Homo sapiens: one gene and its partner. The protein of the gene in region 2 interacts with the protein of the main gene of each other region in a pairwise test. Each region holds a gene or a part of one and is shown on either strand. Other genes may lie near its edges.

The links.
Region 1: the proteins of PREX1 (region 2) and SIM2 interact in a two-hybrid assay, tested with the Homo sapiens proteins (one large-scale study listed by BioGRID and IntAct).

Annotation. Positions count from the first base shown.
Region 1 is NC_000021.9:36,697,669-36,702,455, reverse strand, and holds the start of SIM2 (single-minded homolog 2 long isoform), read right to left. Parts: upstream 3,342-4,787; 5' UTR 2,710-3,341; coding exon 2,535-2,709; intron 1,941-2,534; exon of another isoform or gene 1-1,940. UniProt on the Homo sapiens protein: Transcription factor that may be a master gene of CNS development in cooperation with Arnt. It may have pleiotropic effects in the tissues expressed during development.
Region 2 is NC_000020.11:48,824,730-48,829,732, forward strand, and holds the start of PREX1 (phosphatidylinositol 3,4,5-trisphosphate-dependent Rac exchanger 1 protein), read right to left. Parts: upstream 3,271-5,003; 5' UTR 3,132-3,270; coding exon 2,913-3,131; intron 1-2,912.

The DNA of each region.
Region 1 (4,787 bases), on a different chromosome or scaffold from region 2:
TGAGTCCACCGGCTCCAGGTCTACCCCTACCCCAGGCATTGCACGAATGGAGGAGGGAGGGACTAAGCCACTGCTCCCTTCCCTTTCCGAGGGGGACCGAACAGGTTCAGGGCCCTTTCCAAAACTCTAGGGCCAAACAGCTCCCTTCCAGAGTGCCAACTTCCAGGGTCACCCCCTCCAAAAGACACACAGGAAGCCCCTCAACTGCTCCCAAACCTGCCACCAGTGCAAGCTGCTCAAGGCCTGACCCCCAGAAGGACCACCCCCGCCCAAACTCGGGGCCCAGCAATTCTGAGCCCAAATGCCTGGAGACTTGCTTTCCAGAGCCAGAACGCACAGAGCCGGTTTAAAGGTGGCTGAGCGGTACACCCACCACTTCGCATCTTTTAACAGGCTCTCCGGGAAATCCCTCAAACAGCGAACAGCTTCTGAGCAGCCGTGTCTTCTCGGCCCTCCCTTACTAATTTCTGGTTTAATTGAAATCATTGACCGCAAATCATTTGATCTTTGGATTGCTGCTTCGAAGGCTTTTTCTATTTCCAAAGGGGGCAGAAGGCAGTGAGTGCCCTCTCGTCCGGATTCCACACCTGCTTTGTTGCATGCGGTTAAGGAACGGCTCTTCCCAGCAAACCAGTTACCACCACGCCTCCCCGGAAGGAGACTCAGAAAACCGAATGTTCTTTTAATTTCCCCTAAAACATCAACCGGAGTGGAATCATCCCTAGTTCTCTGCCAAGGGGTCACCATTGAGCGGACAAGTAGCGACGACCTTGGGCAACAGCTCTCAGCTGGAGGGGCTGGGACTGGGGTATCTTTGCCACGTTCCGAGTAGGAAAGGGAGGAACCTGCCCTGGGCTGAAGGACCGCTGCGCCCGAGAGGAGAGCGCCCCGCGGCCGCGCGGTAGGGCCGGGTGGCACAGGAGAGGCCTAGGGTCCGCTTCCAGCCCCCTCCGCTGCCGGGTGCTCCCGGGTCAGCCCGCGCCTGGCTCCTGGGCCGGGGAGCCGCGGGGCTGGAGGCCGCGCTTGCAGACCAGCCCTCTGCGCTCCACCGGGGAGGGGCCGAGAAGCGCAGCTCCAGACCCAGCGGCCAGCACAAATAACAGGCTTGGCAGAGGCGAACGCAAAAGGTCGAGCTTTCCGATTTCGAGTAGAGTGCCTGGTGGGGATGGCGCTATGGAAGCGCCCTGCGGCCTAGGGACACCTGTCGCCTGCTCTGCCCCGACCGTCCGGCGCCCTGCGGCGGAAGTTGTCTCCCTACCTCGGCACTGGCTCCCGGGGCTCCAGAGGCCGGCGCAGCCCTCCCAGCTCCTGGGCCCAGAGGACCCACCAGAACCCTGAGCAGCGCGCCTCCCAGCAAAGAGTCAAATCCTTCGGGCCAGGCCGCAGCGACCCCGCTGGGAGCAGAGGCTCTGGAAGACGCGGCCCGGAACGCTTGGGACGCCAAAAACGCTCAGACCTGCTGCTCGGAGGTGCCTGGCCGGGCAGCCACTGTCACCAGCGGCAACCGGCGTGGGCGGCGGGGCAGCCCACCCAGCGCGCCACTATTTCTTCCTGTTCCGAGTCTTCCGCACCGCGGGTCCCAGCGCCCCTGGCCCACTGGCACATTTTCAATCCTGAAAAGAACGGCAGCGCTCAGCTCTGTCTGCCATTTTCGAATTAATCGGACCCCTCTCTTTCAGCCGGGTCTCAGCTCAGCAACGGCGGGGGCGGGTCTCTCCTGCCCGGACTTCCCGCACCCCAGCCTCACGAGAGGGCCCGGCTCAGCACAAGTGTTCGCTCTGTGGCCTCAGCCTGCAGTGCTTGGGCCTCACCGTGATCCCCGCTGACTCGCAGCGCCTGAAGCTGACCCTCCTTCACCTCCTCCAGAAGAGACAAAAAGAGGGAGGAATGAAGGAAAAATAAAGGGAATCGTAGAAAGAAAAGGAGGAAGGGAAGGAGGGATAAAGAAAGGAAGGGATGGGGAAAGAAAGAAAGCAAAACCAGAGTGAACTTCCAAAGAAAGGAAGGAAAGCAGAAAAGGAAAGAAAACAAACCAATGCATTGGCAAAGGAAGGAAGGAAGGAGGGAGGGAGAGAGGGGGCCAAGGAAGGAAGGAAGGGGAGAATGAAAGAAAGAGGAAGAAAGAAAGAAAAAGAAAGAGAAAGAAAGAAAGAAAGGAAAGAAAGAGAGAAAAAAATCCAAACCAAACCAGAATGCACTGGCGAAGGAAGGAAGGAGGAAAGGGAGAAAGAACAAAACCAGAAAGAACTCGCTGGCCGTGCGGGCTGGGGGACTGCCTGCCCCTGGAACAATTCGTAATTCGCCCTCACCCAGCCCTGGACCAGGAGAGGGTTTGGTCGCCTGGGCCGCCAAGGCCCTGGCCCCTCGCCCCAAGCCAGCGCCGAAGCCGAAGACCCTCACGCAACCTCCCTCAGACGCCCCAGCTCTGGACGCCAGGCCGCGGCAACCCCTCTGGGCGGGCTGGCTTGCGCTTCCCGCCTGGGCCGGGGCCGCCGGGCTCCCCAGCGTCCCCGGCCGCCCACCTGAGGCCTCACCTTCGGGGAAGACGGCGCGCATCTTCAGGTAGCTCGTGGTGAGGCGGATGATGGACGCTTTGTCCAGCTGCGAAGTGATGGCCGACGGCAGCGGGAGCAGCTTGGCAAGCTCGTAAAACTCGCCATTTTCCTTCTCCCTCCTGGTCTTGGCCGCATTCTTGGACTTCTCCTTCATCGCGCCTCGGCTCCGGGCATATTAGACCCGGCCGTGCTCCAGGCCCGCGGAGCCCCGCTCGGGCTGCGGCGGCGGGGATGGGGAAGGGGGAGCCGGGAGCCAGGTGAGTCCGCGGAGTGGGCCGCGGGCAGGTGCGGGGGGCCTCCCGGGGTTCCGAGACGCCTCCCCGCAGCCGCCGGGCCTGAGCTCCGAGCAACCCGGCGGCGCCGCCCGCCGCTGCCCGGAGCGCAGCCTCCTCCGGGCTGGACCGTCCTGCAGCAACCGGAGCCCCGTTCCTGCTCGCTCCTGTTTCCTCCCTCCTGCCTCTCCTGCCTCGGCCTTCCTGGGGGGTGGGGGCGGCCGGCGCGGAGGCGGAGGCGCTGCTTACTCCTTCGTCGAGTGCTCGAACCGGCTGCGGCAAGGCCCCTCCGGACCGGAGGGCGACAGGGGCGGCGGTGGCCGCGGAGCCATGGAGCGGGAGCCCAGCGGAGGGGAGCGAGTCGCAGGCGGCTGGGGCCGGGCCCTGGCCCGGGCGCGCTCTCCTGCCCTTCCTGGCGGCTCCCTGTGCCTGGAGACGCAGCGCCGGAGCCCGCGATGTGTGGCTAGGCGCAGCACCTCCGCTGTCCACGTGCGGCCGAGCCGCGTTTGTTTATGGCAGACCCGCCTTCGGGCGGAGCACTGGCCGCCTGGGTCCCGGAGGGGGGAGCGGGAGGGGGGAGGGACCGCGGCGGGGGCGGGGGCGGCGAATCTTGCCTCCGACCCCGCCGCGGCCCTGGAGTCACAGGCGCGCCTCCGCGTCGCTGCCTCCAGGGACTCTCCCGGGAGAGACCCGCGCGCTCCCGGGTTCGGGGAAGTCGCGGTGAGTGCACACGGCGCGCCGCGGGGACCCGCTCCTGAGCGCCGGTCGCCGGACCCCGGAGCTAGGATGGGCGGCAGGGAGGGCGAGGGAAGGAGGGGTGCCGAGGCCGCCCCTGTGGCTCTCGGGAAGGTCACCAGCAGGCGCGGCCGAGAGGAGGCGGCGCGACTCGTTGGCCAGGCGCCCTGCCGGGGAGGATCGAGCCTTCCGAGGGTGCGCTGGTCCCGCGTCCTCGCCCTCCCGGTGTTGCAGGTCCAAGAGCTGAAAAGGGGAAAGCCGGGAGCCCCCCTCCCCCCATTACACACACACGTGAAAACGGCGCGAGTGGCTCCGAAGTGACCCTTCTGCCCTTTCTGTCCTCGAAACACTAAGGTGCAAAGAGATTGTCGCCTTCTCAGGAGGAGCGGGAGGCCGCAGGGGCGCTCAGGCCAGGGGAAGGGAGGGGCCAGGGAGCCCAGCCGAGTGGTGAGGCCTCTCCCAGGGCGCCGGCGGAAACAGGGCCCAACTGCCGGGGCGGCGGCAAAAGCAGCCCGATTCAGCGCAGCCGGAATTTTGAGGAATCGGCGTTGGGCGATTAAGGGCCAAGGTCGCTGAGCCAGGGTCACAGGGTGGGCGCAGGTGGCGCAGGTGGGGCCCATGGTGATGGGGCAGAAGGCAATTGGAGAAAGAAGACTCCGTTGCAGACGCGGCCACTGGGCATTCTGGACTCTCCTTCAGGGTCATTTTGGACCTAAAGAGTCCTTTTGTCCCCCCTCTGCCCTCCCCTGTCCGGCTCCCGCAGCCTGGAAATGGGTGTGCGGCCCAGGAGTCCTCCGCGCACCCCTGCAGCGGCGGTCACATAACCCCACCTCTTCCAGGAGTGCAGCTTTCCCGGCCCCCCAGGCCAGAGACAGGCTCAGAGGACGCAGGGCAATTCCTTACCTTGGCGTCGAGATCATGTGGGGACTCTCGGCCGTGTGCCACAGGCTGCAGAGCCGTGGAGCAGTGGGGTGCGTGACCTGGAGGTCAGCAGGGGCCGGGAGGACACCGGGCCGCGGATGGGGGCGCGGAGATTTGGGTTCTCGGTGTCACTGCTCTCGCCACTGGCCCGGGATCATGAGCCTGCTGCTCCGAAAACTCGCCGTCGGACAGCGACTGAGTATCCGCTTCCCTCCCCTGGCCCTCCCCTGCGCCAGGAAGGCCTGGCCTTCGGCAACCGTGCCTGCAGCAGGCGCTCCTGACCTTTTCCAGGGACTCCTTTGAA
Region 2 (5,003 bases):
CAAGCAGTCTGGCTCCAGAGCCTTGCACTTGGATTGTTTTTTTTAAACACCCATTTGGCCATCCTCCACTACACCGTCCTCTCCTTGAGGACAGAAGCCACACATGGCCCCTATCACGGGGGTTACTTTCCACGGTTTCCATGGGCCGATGGGACCTTCACACCAAGGACACACGGAGACCAGGGTGGTCCTTTAAGGCCTGCCTCTAACCACATGGAAATAAAAGCAGGGAGGGATTACCGTGCATTCTTCCAAGCCAGGAGACAGCAGGGAAAATCCCTTAGCAAATATAAAGGCTGAGAAGAGAGAGTGGGAAGACAGAAGAGAATCACAACCTGAGGCTGCCAGCCTTGCAACCATGGAAAGCCTTGGTAATTAGCAGTTCCTGAAGCTCTAAGCCCCAGGTTAGTTTTGAAAACGAAAATGCCTTGGGATGTTTAGGGGCCATTCCTGACGGGCCAAGATGAGAGAGGACTCCTGTGGCTCACAAACAACGTATGGCTGGTCAGGTTACACAATCCGTCTGTTTCTGGCACCAGCTTGGGGACACACAAAAGGCCCAGGCAGAAAGGAAGCCCGGATTCCCCGCTCCTTGTTTCACAGGTGGGGAAACTGAGGTCAGGACACGTAGCATGATTGGTCCAAGACACATGTCCAAGTCAGAACCAATTCATCTCAGAACTGACACATCAGATACAAAAAGAAAAATGTGATGAAGTCAGCAAATGTAAAGTGTTAAGGAGATAATGTGAAAGTAGAGAAATCTTTTTTTTTCCTGTTTCTTGAATAATAAGAATGGTTGGCTCCAATCAATTTCCATTATTCCAGCTTCCTCCTACTCTACACGTGGACGATTTAAAACCACAGTTAACTCAAACACAATCTAGATCTGTTCTAAAATGAAACACACCATCTAGGGCAGGGGCGTGGGAGGGAGAGGTATATTTTCTTTCCCATTAATATCAAAATTGGTTTGTATTTCCTGTTTCTCTTCCAAGCAGAGGAGCATGGAGTGGCTCAGAAGGAGAAGTCAGGAGTTCCCTAGAATTTGACATTGCTCAGAGACACCAGGGTTGTCTACATGTTTAATTCAAAAACTGCCAGCTTCTAACAGAACAAATTCTTCCCCCACCCCCCACCCCCGAAACTGTGAGAGAAGAAGGGATGGGAAAGAAAGCCAATCCTGCCTTATTCTTACAGGCCTTCCTAGAAGGGTCCTTTAGCCAAATGGTTTTCAATGCTTCTGCACAACCCCCTCTCCCACATCCCCCTGCCCCCAGTACATCTCCTTTCACAGGCAGAAGGGCTCTAGTCTAAGGCTGTCTCCTCCCTGAGCTGGAACTCTGATCTCACACAGCCTCAGCTGCACCCCTAAGCCATGAGGAGCCCCAGAGGACCCCAGAGTCTCCCTCTTTCTCCCAAAGACTAGGAGCTACAAAGCCTGGCTCTAGGGTCTTTGAAAGAGCCACCCCCACACCAGCCCTTCCTGAACCAGGATTAAAAGACTTCCTAGAGCAGAGAAGGGGAGTAAATGAGGCCCCAGCAGGAGGCATGGAGATTAAAGACTTTAGAGTCTCCTAACTTCCATCCAAGGCTCTGCCCCGTCCCACCCCCTCCACCCGCTGGCCACTTTTCTCACTTCCTAGGAGAGTAGGGAAGTGGCCCCTTCCTCCCTCTCACAGAAAAAAAGCAAAAGAAAAATGCAGCATAGAATAGGGGTTTAGAACACCAGCTGGGATAGTCCCGGTTCAAAGCCCAGTACCCCCACTTAATCAGCTGTGCGATCCCAGACAAGCTACCCGGCCCCTCTGGAGCTAAACTTTCCCAATCTTAAAAACGGAGGAGGCAGGACCCAGTAGCTCACGCCTGTAATCCCTGCACTTTGGAGGCCGAGGTCGGCGGATCACTTGAGGCCAGGAGTCCAAGACCAGCATGGCCAACATGGTGAAATCCCCTCTCTGATAAAAATACAAAAATTAGTCGGCCGTGGTGGCTGGCGCGTGCCTGTAATCCCAGCTACTCGGGAGGCTGAGGCAAGAGAATTGCTTGAACCCGGGAGGCGGAGGTTGCAGTGAACCGAGATTGCGCCACTGTACTCCAGCCTGGGTGACTGAGGGAGACTCCGTCTCAAAAAAAAATTTTTTTAATTAAAAATGGGGGAAATACTCGTCCCTACTTCATAGACCGCCTGTGAAGGTTAAACCTGCTAATTAATGACACATGTAAGGTGTCTGGCACATAGTAAGTGGTCGGTTGTTATTTTACAAAGTCTGAGGCCGTGGTTTTGCACTTGGAGATGGGGAGTTGGTGGGGGTGGATGCAGTTAGGGAGCCTGGACTGCCGAGTTTTGAGTTCGAAACCCACTCTCCCCGAACTCCAGCAAAAACCTGTGCATGGGGGATTCTACCCTGGGGTTCTGTCAATCCCCGCCCCTCCTCTGAGCTTCAGGTTTTATCCTACTCCATCAACGCGCAGGGACGTTGGGCTCTGGGGCTCCTACGGTATGTCCTAGATGAGTGGTGCACCGGGCGCGTAGTTATTCCTGGGAAAAAGACGCAGGAGCGCCAGCTCCCGGCGCCGCCGGGGTCCCCAAGCCCCTGCATCGCGGATGTAACTAATTTTAAAACTATTTGAAAGGCGGGGACGGGGAAGAAAAGACAAAAGGGCAGCGCGCGCCGCGGGGAAGTGGAGTGCGGGAGAGCCCCGGTCGGAGCAGGACCGTGCGCCGGCCAGGGAGGGAGGCGACGCGACAGCTCTGGAGGAGCTCGGATCCCCCCCGCTTTCCGCGCGCCCTGCGGGGCGCCCCCGAGGCAATTCTCCACCCACGGGGACCACGGCCACAGGTTGTGGGGACCGCAGCGGGGCGAGCGGCTGGAGGGAAAGCTGTCCCCAAGCTCCCGAGCGACACTCACCGACTGCAAGAAGCGCAAGGTGCCCACGTAGTCCCTCTCGGTGCCCAAGATCTCGTTGAGGACGCAGAGGCGGAGGCGCAGCTGGCGCTCGGACTCCCGGGCGGCCGCGCACGGGCCGGGGCCGGAGCTGGGCGCCGCGGCGCCAGGGGCCCGGGGGTCCGGGTGGGCGCAGTCCCCGGCCCCGTCGCCGCCGGGCTCGCTGCCGCTGGGCGCCTCCATTCTAGCGCGGCCGCGCGGCGCCGGCTCCTTCCGTCGCGCCGAGCGGCAACTCAGGCGTCCAGGCGCCCCATCCCGGACGGGGCGCGCCGGCGGGCCGGGCTCAGCGGCGGGCCGGGCTCCCGGCGCGGCGGGCGGGACTGGGGGCCGGGCGGCTGGGCCGGGGGCGGAGGCAGCGCGCGGGGGCCGGGCGAGGGGCGGGAGGGGGCGGCCCTCGGGGCTCCCAGACGGCTGGCCCCCCGCCCCCGCGCCAGGGACCGTCTGCCAAGTGCCACGCCGCGCTCGGCCGCAGAGGCGCTCTGCGCGTGCACGGGGCCCCTGGGGACGCGGCGCGGCGCTCGGCGCCTCCGTCGGAAGCTCGGGGGTCGGGCGGGAGCCTCCGGAAGGGCCCCGCGGAGCCGGGAGTCCGAGGCCGCGCGCACGCCGAACCGAGCGTACCAACTCCGCGCCCGGACGCGTGGCGCCCCCCCAACCCGCAGTCACCGCGGGCTACGCCACTCCCACCCGGCACACGCGACACCCGCCGCGCGCAGGCTCCTGCTTGCAGGTCCGGCCGCTGCTCGGGCCAAGTAAACACCGGGCTGGGAAAGCTCGCTGCGGAGCCGCTCGGGGGCAAGCCAGCCCCGCCACGCGCGCCTCCGCGGCCCCGGGAAGTCAGGGGCGACCGCTGCCTGGGCAGTGACGGCCCCTCTCTGGGCAGTGACGGCCCCTCCCGGGAACGCCGGGCCCTCGCGGTGCCCTCGGTGCTACCACGACCTTGGGAAGGAACATGCGTGGCGCGCGCTCGCTCTCACTTTTCTCTTTCCCGTTTCCTTTCCCATCTCTCTCTTTCCTTCCTTCCTTTTCTTTCTGAACTTCTTTGCCCCCTGACCCTGCCCTTTCCACCTTTCCCAGAAGAAATTATTACCTGCTCTTGAGTTATTGATCAAGTGGCAGGTACCCTGCCTGCTCCCCCTTCCATCCACCCACCCCATGGGATAAGGCCTTGGGAAACCCAGCTTCTTGTCAGGTTGCTCTGGGCAATGTTGATCATCACCCGCCTTATCGGAAGGTATGGAGAGGGGAGGAAGTTCTGGGGCCTAGAGTCAGCTGCTCAGGTTCAAATCCTAGCTCCCCACTTGCTGGCCGGGTGGCCTTGGGCTGGTTTCCTTGCTTCAAGATCCTCAGTGTTTTCATCAGTATAACGGGAACGATCATGGTACCTAGCTCCAAGGTCCTCCCCGGGGTTCCATGGGAAGTACTTAGCACCTAGAAAGTTCTCTGTAAATGTTTGTTCTTACTATTATTGCATGTGTGAAGCCCAACACCTAGAAAGTTCTCTGTAAATGTTTGTTCTTACTATTATTGCATGTGTGAACGGCCCTCTAAGCCTGGCCCCACTCTCAAATGGCCCATACAATCCCTAATCACCCGTGTTTCCGGACCAGAGATTGTATCGTCTCTGCAGGGGATAAAGTGATCCACATAGTATCCGCCTCTAGACTGTAGTCATTTTATGGACAGAAACATTGCTTATTTATTCCTGTTCCAAAAGCCTAGGATTTTCCTCCCATTGGCCTCTCAATACTGTAAGTGCCTAAGGACACAGGGAGAGAATGGGGTGGCTTCTGCCCTCTCTGACTTCTTTCTTTGGGATCATGGGCAAGGTAGCATTTGATCTGGGCCTTGGGCTGAGTGAAGTTCCCCTGGGCAGGGAGTAAAGGACATGAGATAGGTGAGCCTGTCACGCTTGGGTAGTGGAGTCAATTGTGTCCAAAGGTAGCTGGTTTTTTATTTATATTTTTATTCCTAATAAAGGCCTCTGGAGTATCTCTGCTTTGTGACTTTAAACTGTTCACGGTACCTTTCTGAGCCTCCGTTTCCTCATCTTTAAAT